3 linked regions of the Homo sapiens genome follow. The protein of the gene in region 1 purifies or fractionates together with the protein of each later gene. This does not show direct contact. Each region holds a gene or a part of one and is shown in the gene's direction. Other genes may lie near its edges. The genes, in order: ZBTB48, SRBD1 and SCAF1.

Region 1 (3,745 bases):
ATGCAAGGTCAAGAACAGAGAGCAAATTAGGTAGCTAAGGACTCAGGTCCTTAGTTGGTGTCCAGGGGCCACATTCTTTCCTTTCACCATCTCTGTAGGGACAGGAATACTTCCCTTCTGTCCTCAGAGGGTCAGGACTCAGAGAAACCACAGAGCAGCAGCTCAGGAAAGTGGTTCATGGAAATGCTGGCAAGAGAGAGGGGTTACAATGCCCTCCCTTGGGAGCAGGCTGCTCCCATCAGATCGTAACCTCTCTGGTATGTGGGCAGAGCTACCAGGTTAAGGTCCTCCCTAGGGTTTGCAAAACCCTCATGGGATCATGAGCCATACAGAACCGACCTGTGTGTCTCCAGAGTCTGTAATTAACACAGGCATTTTGAGGAAATGCGTGGCCTCAGGCCCCACTCCCGGCTACCCCCATCCCACTATGCCTAGTATAGTCTAGCTGCCCTGGTACAATTCTCCCAGTATCTTGCAGGCCCCTATTTCCTATTCCTACTCTGCTCATCTGGCTCTCAGGAACCTTCTTGGCCTTCCCTTTCAGACCTCTACAGATGCCAGCCTTGTGGGAAAGAAGAGTGGGCACCTGAGGGAAGCCAGACCTGCTTCCCGCGCACTGTGGTGTTTTTGGCTTTGCGTGAGCACACCTCTTGGGTGCTGCTGGCAGCTAACACGCTGCTGCTGCTGCTGCTGCTTGGGACTGCTGGCCTGTTTGCCTGGCACCTAGACACCCCTGTGGTGAGGTCAGCAGGGGGCCGCCTGTGCTTTCTTATGCTGGGCTCCCTGGCAGCAGGTAGTGGCAGCCTCTATGGCTTCTTTGGGGAACCCACAAGGCCTGCGTGCTTGCTACGCCAGGCCCTCTTTGCCCTTGGTTTCACCATCTTCCTGTCCTGCCTGACAGTTCGCTCATTCCAACTAATCATCATCTTCAAGTTTTCCACCAAGGTACCTACATTCTACCACGCCTGGGTCCAAAACCACGGTGCTGGCCTGTTTGTGATGATCAGCTCAGCGGCCCAGCTGCTTATCTGTCTAACTTGGCTGGTGGTGTGGACCCCACTGCCTGCTAGGGAATACCAGCGCTTCCCCCATCTGGTGATGCTTGAGTGCACAGAGACCAACTCCCTGGGCTTCATACTGGCCTTCCTCTACAATGGCCTCCTCTCCATCAGTGCCTTTGCCTGCAGCTACCTGGGTAAGGACTTGCCAGAGAACTACAACGAGGCCAAATGTGTCACCTTCAGCCTGCTCTTCAACTTCGTGTCCTGGATCGCCTTCTTCACCACGGCCAGCGTCTACGACGGCAAGTACCTGCCTGCGGCCAACATGATGGCTGGGCTGAGCAGCCTGAGCAGCGGCTTCGGTGGGTATTTTCTGCCTAAGTGCTACGTGATCCTCTGCCGCCCAGACCTCAACAGCACAGAGCACTTCCAGGCCTCCATTCAGGACTACACGAGGCGCTGCGGCTCCACCTGACCAGTGGGTCAGCAGGCACGGCTGGCAGCCTTCTCTGCCCTGAGGGTCGAAGGTCGAGCAGGCCGGGGGTGTCCGGGAGGTCTTTGGGCATCGCGGTCTGGGGTTGGGACGTGTAAGCGCCTGGGAGAGCCTAGACCAGGCTCCGGGCTGCCAATAAAGAAGTGAAATGCGTATCTGGTCTCCTGTCGTGGGAGAGTGTGAGGTGTAACGGATTCAAGTCTGAACCCAGAGCCTGGAAAAGGCTGACCGCCCAGATTGACGTTGCTAGGCAACTCCGGAGGCGGGCCCAGCGCCAAAAGAACAGGGCGAGGCGTCGTCCCCGCATCCCATTGGCCGTTCTCTGCGGGGCCCCGCCCTCGGGGGCCGGAGCTAGAAGCTCTACGCTTCCGAGGCGCACCTCCTGGCCTGCACGCTTTGACGTCACGTCCGGCGCGGAGACGGTGGAGTCTCCGCACTGTCGGCGGGGTACGCATAGCCGGGCACTAGGTTCGTGGGCTGTGGAGGCGACGGAGCAGGGGGCCAGTGGGGCCAGCTCAGGGAGGACCTGCCTGGGTGAGGAGGGCGCGGGGTGAGGGAGGGAGGGGCTGCGGGCCGCCGTGGCTGCCTTCCGCTCGGCCGCTCGGGACCTGTGGGCGCGGCGTGGGCTTCGCTCACCTGTCCCCGGCTGCCGCCCTCCGCCGTCCGGGATCCTCTCACTGTGCCGGGCCAGTCCGTTCGCTCTCATCCCATGTCTCCTTTCCCCAAACTTGGATTTTTCTCACCAGGCCCTTCTTCACGACCCTGGCCCCCCATCCAGCATCCCCCCTGGCCAATCCAATATGGCCCCCGGCCCCCGGGAGGCTGTCAGTGTGTTCCAGCCCTCCGCGTGCACCCCTCACCCTGACCCAAGCCCTCGTGCTGATAAATATGATTATTTGAGTAGAGGCCAACTTCCCGTTTCTCTCTCTTGACTCCAGGAGCTTTCTCTTGCATACCCTCGCTTAGGCTGGCCGGGGTGTCACTTCTGCCTCCCTGCCCTCCAGACCATGGACGGCTCCTTCGTCCAGCACAGTGTGAGGGTTCTGCAGGAGCTCAACAAGCAGCGGGAGAAGGGCCAGTACTGCGACGCCACTCTGGACGTGGGGGGCCTGGTGTTTAAGGCACACTGGAGTGTCCTTGCCTGCTGCAGTCACTTTTTCCAGAGCCTCTACGGGGATGGCTCAGGGGGCAGTGTCGTCCTCCCTGCTGGCTTCGCTGAGATCTTTGGCCTCTTGTTGGACTTTTTCTACACTGGTCACCTCGCTCTCACCTCAGGGAACCGGGATCAGGTGCTCCTGGCAGCCAGGGAGTTGCGAGTGCCAGAGGCCGTAGAGCTGTGCCAGAGCTTCAAGCCCAAAACTTCAGTGGGACAGGCAGCAGGTGGCCAGAGTGGGCTGGGGCCCCCTGCCTCCCAGAATGTGAACAGCCACGTCAAGGAGCCGGCAGGCTTGGAAGAAGAGGAAGTTTCGAGGACTCTGGGTCTAGTCCCCAGGGATCAGGAGCCCAGAGGCAGTCATAGTCCTCAGAGGCCCCAGCTCCATTCCCCAGCTCAGAGTGAGGGCCCCTCCTCCCTCTGTGGGAAACTGAAGCAGGCCTTGAAGCCTTGTCCCCTTGAGGACAAGAAACCCGAGGACTGCAAAGTGCCCCCAAGGCCCTTAGAGGCTGAAGGTGCCCAGCTGCAGGGCGGCAGTAATGAGGTACTGTGCCCAGGGTGTTGGGACTGGGGAGACAAATAGAGGGAATAGACACTTTTTTGGTATAATAGGGACCCTGGGCTGGGTGTGATGGCTCACTCACGCCTGTAATCCTAGCACTTTGGGAGGCCAAGGGGGGTGGATCACTTTAGCTTGGGAGTTCGAGACCAGCCTGGGCAACATGGCGAGGCCTCATTTGTACAAAGACTATACAAAAATTAGCCGGGTGTGGTGGCACACACCTGTAGTCCTAGCTACTCAGGAGGGTGAGGTGGGAGGATCACTTGAGCCCAGGAAGTGGAGGTTGCAGTGAGCTGAGATGGTGCCACTACCCTCCAGCCTAGGCGACAGAGCAAGATCCTGTCTCAAAAAAAAAAAAAAAATATGTGGACCTTAAGACAATCTCTGTTAATGTGGGTTTGGAACAGGCTTTCTCCAAAGGAAGCTGGTGACCTCAGGCTGACCTTTCTGCAAGCCCCAGCTGTTCACGGTTGCCACCTTCCTGAGAGGAGTGGGCAGCATCAGGGTTACAGGTGTTTCCCCAGGGCAGTGTTTCC
Region 2 (3,745 bases), on another chromosome or scaffold:
TACATTGATATTTTTAACATTTGTGAAAAGAAATATTACAACTCACTCATCTTTCCATGGTATATTGCTTTCGGGGTGCCTTATAAAGAGGCAGTTGGAAATATTTGATTTAGGGGAGCCTTCTTTAAGGATAATGGTTAAGCAAAAACATAAGCCTGCCAAGGGTTTGCCTGTCCCTATTTTAAACACATTTCTGTTAAGGCTGAAGTGTGGAGATAGAATTAGTATATGGTAGTCTGTGTGGGAATGTTCTGAATTCAGGCATATTGTAGAATGTGGTGGTAGGAGTGATTGTAAGGTGATCTGGGTGGGTTGTTTGATGGGAAGCTTAGCACCTTCAAGTTTTTACTCTTGGACTGGTTAGATTCTCCAGAGAAAAGCCTTCCCATTCTCCTCCCTAGAGGGCAGTATTTTAGGAATTTAGTGGCGGAAGACTAGGGTTCTCTGCCTTTAGCATTCAGTCTGTATGGTTCCCATGCCCACAGTCTAGACTGTTTCATTAATACCTTCTCCAGAGAATAAACTTACAGTCTTTTTCCTGGGGCAGTTGCCTAATAGCATGAAGTGAGGTAGGACACTTAGAGATATTCCTTTGTCAGTTTATACACAGCCCTAACCCGTTTCACCTTTAATTCCAAAGGTATCAGCTACTGCTTCATATGAATTTTTTTTTTTTAGAATACTGCAGGGTAAATTGGTTTGGTTCTCATATGCTCCCACTACTGGCTTGGGATTTTAATTTTTATGTGTTGCAATTTGTTAGTCTTTTTGGTTTTGGAATTTTGAGGAGTCATATTTAGGAAAACCTCCATTTCCCCATCTCCCCTCAATAGTGTGAAAAGAATCACCTTTATTTCTTAGTTCTTTTATAGTTTTAATTTGTACATTTTAAACTATTAGTTATTGGGGAATAAATTTTTGTTAATGGTGTGGAGGTAGGAATTAAACTCCTTTTTTTCTTCTAGAGGAATAGCTAGTTGTCTCAATACCATTTATTGAATAATCCATTTTTACCCTGCCCTGATTTTAAATGCCACCCTTGTCATACACTAACTTCCTCCATTCTTATTTTGTTGTGGTAAGATACACATAATATAAAAATCACAATTACCTGTTCTTTCATGATCAATGTCTAAAAAATACTAATTTGAGAAAGGATGATCTTTATAACCTAATATGCCAAAAAGAGAGTGAAGGGAAAGATGGAAGATTATCCTGTCTACTTCCTGCAGACTGCTTTCCTGTTGTTCTTTTGGTTCCCTCTGAGCACTATTTTGCCCAATCATTGTGTACTTACTGGACTGAGTTGAGCTATAGCTGCTGGGAGAACATATTCCCTTTTGTGACAACCCCTTTAGTATTTCCATGAGAGATTATTTCCTCTTCTAAGCGGATGTTAGAACCAGAGGCATTATAACATATGACTGGGTCAGAAACTTGTTTAAAGGGTTCCAAACATGTCAGAGCCTAGTGTAGTCCTTATAGTTTGATGGTTTTATGGTAATAATATCAGGCAGCCACTTATAAAGTCCTTTATTAATTAATTTTAACAGCTAATTAATCTTAACAGCTAAAGTAATTTTATTTACTTTCCCGTATTATGTGATGTCTCTGGTTATTTGTCTTAACTTTTTTTTACAGCTTGGCCTTCGAATTTGGTAAATAGTTTTTAGTCACATAGTGATTAATCATTTTATTTAAGTTTAATGAACTTTTATTATAAGGGAATGATTATCTTGTTTTAAGAATAACCTGGCTGCTTACTCAGTCAATCAGCATCATTTATTTCATTGCCAACTTTGTAGAGAGACCTCTACTTTATTCATTAAGAATATATAGAATAGGCTGGGCACAGTGACTCATGCCTGTAATCCCAGCACTTTGGGAGGCCGAGGTGGGCGGATCACCTGAGGTCGGGAGTTCAAGACCAGCCTGACCAACATGGAGAAATGCTGTCTCTACTAAAAAATACAAAATTAGCCGGGTGTGTTGGCGCATGCCTGTAATCCCAGCTACTAGGGAGGCTGAGGCAGGAGAATCGCTTGAACCCAGGAGGCGGAGGTTGTGGTGAGCCAATATCGTGCCATTGCACTCCAGCTTGGACAGCAAGAGCGAAACTCTGTCTCAAAAAAAAAAAAAAAAAAAGAATAGGAAAAAAATGTTTCTGTCTTTGAGATATAGTTTAATAAAGGACTTTGTAAGGGGCTGCCTGATATTATTACCATAAAATAACACAGAATACTTAAGCACACAATTCTTAAAAAATGAAGCACACAGTTTTCCTACAGGTGTCACCCTGTAGGAGTTTATATTTTTTAAAAGATGGCCCATACTCTTAAGAGTTTTAAACCATTGGAAGGCTGTTAGCTACTCTTTTTTTTTCTTTTTTTTTTTTTTTTGAGACCGAGTCTCACTCTGTTGCCCAGGCTGGAGTGCAATTATGCAATCTCAGCTCTCTGCAACCTCCACCTCCTGGGTTCAAGTGATTCTTCTGCCTCAGCCTCCCCAGTAGCTGGGATTTCAGGTGCCCACGACCACACCTGGCTAATTTTTCTATTTTTAGTAGAGACTGAGTTTCACCATGTTGGCCAGGCTGGTCTCGAACTCCTGACTTCAGGTGATCCGCCCTCCTTGGCCTCCCAAAGTGCTGGGATTACAGGCATGAGCCATGGTGCCCAGCCAGCTACTCTTTTAATTGGCAGCTACATAGCAGAGGAAACTGATGTTTGGGCTTGTGAATAAACATCATTGTTTTTGTTTTTTTCCTATGAAATGTTAGTTTTGAATGACCCATTACTTGTAGCCAAATAAAGTGATAAGAATATTCAAGTGTTGCTGATTTTATTTTCTGTTTCTTCTAGATGTCATCATTGCCAAGAAGAGCGAAAGTACAGGTCCAGGATGTGGTACTGAAAGATGAATTTTCTTCATTCTCTGAGTTGTAAGCATACTGGTTTAATATGTGGGTAGGGGAATGATGAATATTTTAATAAGGAGTAATGCATTCTGTCACTTTCTAACTCCTTAAGTGATGTGGGTAGAAAAAACTTTTTTTATTCATTCATGCAACAAGTATTTGTTGAACTCATGCTGTGTTCCAGGTTCTGTCTAGTGTTGCTAATAAAGTATCGAAAGGAGAGAGAAAGTAACCAACTAAATATGTAACATAATACTTACACTAGAATATAAGCTCCATGAGAGCATAGAGTTTTATATATTGCTTTAGAGCAGGATTTTTCAACCTCTGCACTACTGACATTGTGTGCAAGACAATTCTTTGTTGTGGGGGCTATCTTTTTTCTTGTAGGATTTTTAGCAGCATCCTTGGCCTCTACCCACTGGATGCCAATAGCTTCCTGCTAAGTTATAACAATTAAAAATGTCTCTAGACATTGCTAGATATCCCCAGTTGAGAATCTCTGCTTTAGAGTCATATTAGGTGCTCTGAAGATATTTGTTAAGTAAATGACTGGTAATATTTATAGTAATAAGTACTATAAAGAAAAATAAAACAGGGCAGGGGATAGAGAGCATAGTGAGTGGTTGCAGTCGGGGGGCATTTTGGATAGAGTAGTCAGAAAGTTATTGCGGAAGATGTGGCAAGAGATCTAGATGAGATTTGGGGGTGCAGCTTGCAAAGATCTTGGGGATGGGTGTTCCAAATAGAGAAAGCAGCAAGTGCAAAGACCCTGAGGCAGGAATAAGTTTGGTGTGTTCAGGGAACAGCAAGAAGACCAGTGTGGCC
Region 3 (3,745 bases), on another chromosome or scaffold:
CGGGAGAAGCGGCGACGGCGGCGGCGCTCCGCCTCCCCGCCCCCGGCCACTTCCTCATCGTCGTCCTCGAGGCGCGAGCGGCACCGCGGGAAACACCGGGACGGTGGCGGCAGCAAGAAGAAGAAGAAGCGGTCGCGGTCCCGGGGTGAGAAGCGGTCTGGGGATGGCAGCGAGAAGGCCCCGGCGCCCGCCCCGCCGCCCTCTGGCTCCACCTCGTGTGGTGACCGCGACAGCCGCCGCCGGGGGGCCGTGCCACCCTCCATCCAGGACCTCACGGACCACGACCTCTTCGCCATCAAGCGGACCATCACGGTGGGCCGGCTTGACAAGTCCGACCCCCGAGGACCCTCTCCTGCTCCGGCCTCCTCACCTAAGCGGGAGGTCCTGTACGACTCCGAGGGACTGAGCGGCGAGGAGCGGGGCGGCAAGAGCAGCCAGAAGGATCGGCGCCGCTCGGGGGCCGCCTCCTCCTCCTCCTCTTCCCGGGAGAAGGGGTCTCGTCGGAAGGCGCTGGACGGGGGTGACCGGGATCGGGACAGGGACAGAGATAGGGACAGGGACAGGTCATCCAAGAAGGCCCGGCCCCCCAAGGAGTCGGCGCCTTCCTCAGGGCCCCCGCCAAAGCCACCAGTCAGCAGCGGCTCAGGCTCTTCATCCTCGTCGTCCTCCTGTTCTTCCCGGAAGGTGAAGCTGCAGTCCAAGGTGGCGGTGCTGATCCGCGAGGGTGTCAGCAGCACCACCCCGGCCAAGGATGCCGCGTCAGCCGGCCTGGGCTCCATTGGCGTCAAATTCAGCCGTGACCGCGAGAGTCGCTCCCCCTTCCTCAAACCTGACGAGCGGGCCCCCACTGAGATGGCCAAAGCAGCTCCGGGCAGCACCAAGCCCAAAAAGACCAAGGTCAAGGCCAAGGCAGGGGCCAAGAAAACCAAGGGGACCAAGGGAAAGACCAAGCCATCCAAGACCAGGAAAAAGGTCCGCAGTGGAGGTGGCAGCGGGGGCAGTGGTGGCCAGGTGTCGCTGAAGAAGTCCAAGGCGGATAGCTGCAGCCAGGCGGCAGGCACCAAGGGGGCGGAGGAGACTTCCTGGTCCGGGGAGGAGCGGGCAGCCAAGGTTCCTAGCACCCCGCCCCCCAAGGCAGCCCCACCACCCCCTGCCCTCACTCCGGACTCGCAGACCGTGGACAGCAGCTGCAAGACACCTGAGGTCTCCTTCCTGCCCGAGGAGGCCACTGAGGAGGCTGGGGTCCGAGGTGGGGCGGAGGAGGAGGAGGAGGAAGAAGAAGAGGAGGAGGAAGAGGAAGAGGAGGAGGAGCAGCAGCCTGCTACCACCACGGCCACCAGCACTGCTGCAGCCGCCCCAAGCACTGCCCCCAGCGCGGGGTCCACAGCCGGTGACTCGGGGGCGGAGGACGGGCCAGCTTCCCGTGTCTCCCAGCTGCCCACGTTGCCCCCGCCCATGCCCTGGAATCTGCCAGCTGGTGTGGACTGCACCACCAGCGGCGTCCTGGCCTGTGAGTGTCCCCTGGGGGAGGGTGGTGCTGGGGCAGGTGAGACAGGATGGGGACTGGAGGGTACAGACTTAGAGGCAGTGGGGTGCCCTGGCAGGGAGAGGTTTATAGGGACATAGACTGGGAGGGTGGGGGTGAGTAAAGGCCAGCCAGGCTCTAGGTGCCTGGGTGTACTGGGAGAGAGGGGCCGGTGAGAGCAGGTGGTGGCCAGCACAGACTGGAGTGGTGGGCTGGGTTCTGGGATTCCCCTAGACGGGGAGTAGGAGAGAGGGACCAGAAAGAATGGCTTGAGCAGGGCATCGTATTCCTTACGGATGGCGGTTGCCTCTACCAGACTGCAGAGGTGGGGAGAGAGGTTGGGACTGGCCACAGCGGGTCAGGAGGCAGAATCTCACTCCTGCCACTGTCTCATCACTGCATGACCCTGGCCAACCCCGCACCCACACACCTGGAGTCCCAAGAACATTCGTGGTATGGGCTGTTCTCTCATTGGCCAAGGCCCCCTTTTCCCAGTTCTGAGCGTGAGGCTTTGTGGCTGTTCTGGGGCCAAGGGCAGGAGATGACAGCAGGTGTCCAGGTGAGGTTCACCAGCTCCTGTCCTGTCACCTCTCCCATCTTCATGTTGTCACCTCTCTGCCTCCTGCAGTGACTGCACTTCTCTTCAAGATGGAAGAAGCCAACCTGGCGAGCCGAGCGAAGGCCCAGGAGCTGATCCAGGCCACCAACCAGGTGGGCTCCCCTGGGGGAGAGTCCCTGCCGCCCCTTCTTTTGTCCATTGCCTCGGGTTAGGAGAGGAACCGCGGGCCTGGCAGCTCTGGGGCAAGGTATCGGCCTGAAGAGGAGCCTGTTGCCTCAGCTGTGGGGAAGTCAGCGTGGGAACAGTGGGGTGCACGTCCCCTCTTCCCCTCCACCTCCCTTTACTCATCACCCCTCTGTCCTCGTCCCACAGATCCTCAGCCACAGAAAGCCACCCTCAAGTCTGGGGATGACCCCAGCTCCTGTGCCCACCTCTTTGGGTCTGCCCCCTGGCCCCTCCAGCTACCTGCTTCCTGGCAGCCTCCCTCTGGGGGGCTGCGGTTCGACCCCCCCCACCCCCACCGGGCTGGCTGCCACGTCTGACAAGAGAGAGGGCAGCAGCAGCTCTGAGGGCCGTGGGGACACAGATAAGGTGAGCTGGCCTGGGGAGAGGTGGGGCGGTGCTGACAGTTCTGTAGAGAATATGGACAGGAACTGAGACGCGGGGGCCCAAGGAGAAAGGGAGACTGAGGCAGGGAGACAGGGCCGTAGAGACCAAAGTCATGGAACCATAAGGAACTCCACTTTGCTGGAATGGGTGAGCAGGAAATGCGTTAGGCGTGTCCAAAGGAAAATCGCGTCTGTGCGTGTGTGGGGCTGTGTGCGTACACACCACATATACACACCCTGGAAGAGATGCCCCGCGCTGCAGCCCACCCCTTGATTATCTGTTGCTCGCGCTGTCTCCGTCTCTGTGAGTGGGGGAGGGTGGTTTCCGAATGAAAACTCAAGAACCTGTTTGTAGATGAAGCAGGGGAGAATGGGTGCCAGGCAGACAGTAATGTAGGTTCTTACTCAGCTGCTCTGGCCGGCTCCTACTCCTGGGCTCTGGAGCTGTTTCTCTCTTGGTCAGGTCTAGATGTGGGTTTTTGTTTTTGTTTTTCTTTGAGATGGAGTCTTGCTCTGTCACCTGGTCTGGAGTGCAATGGTGCCATCTCGGCTCACTGCAGCCTCCGCCTCCAGGGTTCAAGTGATTCTCCTACCTCAGCCTCCCGAGTAGCTGGGATGACAGGCACCCGCCACCACACCCAGCTAATTTTTGTATTTTTAGTAGAGACGGCATTTCACCACGTTGGCCAGGCTGGTCTTGACTCCTGACCTCAGGTGATCTGCCAGCCTCGGCCTCCCAAAGTGCAGGGATTACAGGTGTGAGCCACCGTGCCCGGCCTTGGTTGGTTGGTTTTTGAGACAGGGTCTCGCTTTGTCACCCAAGCTGGCATGCAGTGGCACAGTCACAGCTCACTGTAGCCTCAGCCTTGATCTCTCGGGCTCAAGGGATCCTCCTACGTCAGCATCCTGTGTAGCTAGGACTACAGGCACGCGCCACCATGCCCAGCTCATTTCTTAATTTTTTGTAGAGTTGGGGTCTCACTATGTTGCCCAGGCTGGTCTCAAATTCCTGAGCTCAAGTGATTCTCCCACCTCAGCCTCCCAAAGTGCTGG

What was found.
Region 2: the proteins of ZBTB48 (region 1) and SRBD1 purify together in Homo sapiens (affinity purification with mass spectrometry; 2 studies listed by BioGRID and IntAct, with this or other methods). This does not show direct contact.
Region 3: the proteins of ZBTB48 (region 1) and SCAF1 purify together in Homo sapiens (affinity purification with mass spectrometry; 2 studies listed by BioGRID and IntAct, with this or other methods). This does not show direct contact.

Annotation. Positions count from the first base shown.
Region 1 is NC_000001.11:6,578,109-6,581,853, forward strand, and holds the start of ZBTB48 (zinc finger and BTB domain-containing protein 48), read left to right. Parts: upstream 1-1,885; 5' UTR 1,886-2,028; exon of another isoform or gene 2,029-2,432; 5' UTR 2,433-2,501; coding exon 2,502-3,191; intron 3,192-3,745. Other genes in the region: TAS1R1 (taste receptor type 1 member 1 isoform b precursor), read left to right, coding at 545-1,476. UniProt on the Homo sapiens protein: Plays a critical role in transcriptional regulation and chromatin remodeling. Acts as a regulator of telomere length. Directly binds the telomeric double-stranded 5'-TTAGGG-3' repeat.
Region 2 is NC_000002.12:45,604,558-45,608,302, reverse strand, and holds part of SRBD1 (S1 RNA-binding domain-containing protein 1), read left to right. Parts: intron 1-2,861; coding exon 2,862-2,941; intron 2,942-3,745.
Region 3 is NC_000019.10:49,652,196-49,655,940, forward strand, and holds part of SCAF1 (splicing factor, arginine/serine-rich 19), read left to right. Parts: coding exon 1-1,510; intron 1,511-2,153; coding exon 2,154-2,236; intron 2,237-2,456; coding exon 2,457-2,675; intron 2,676-3,745.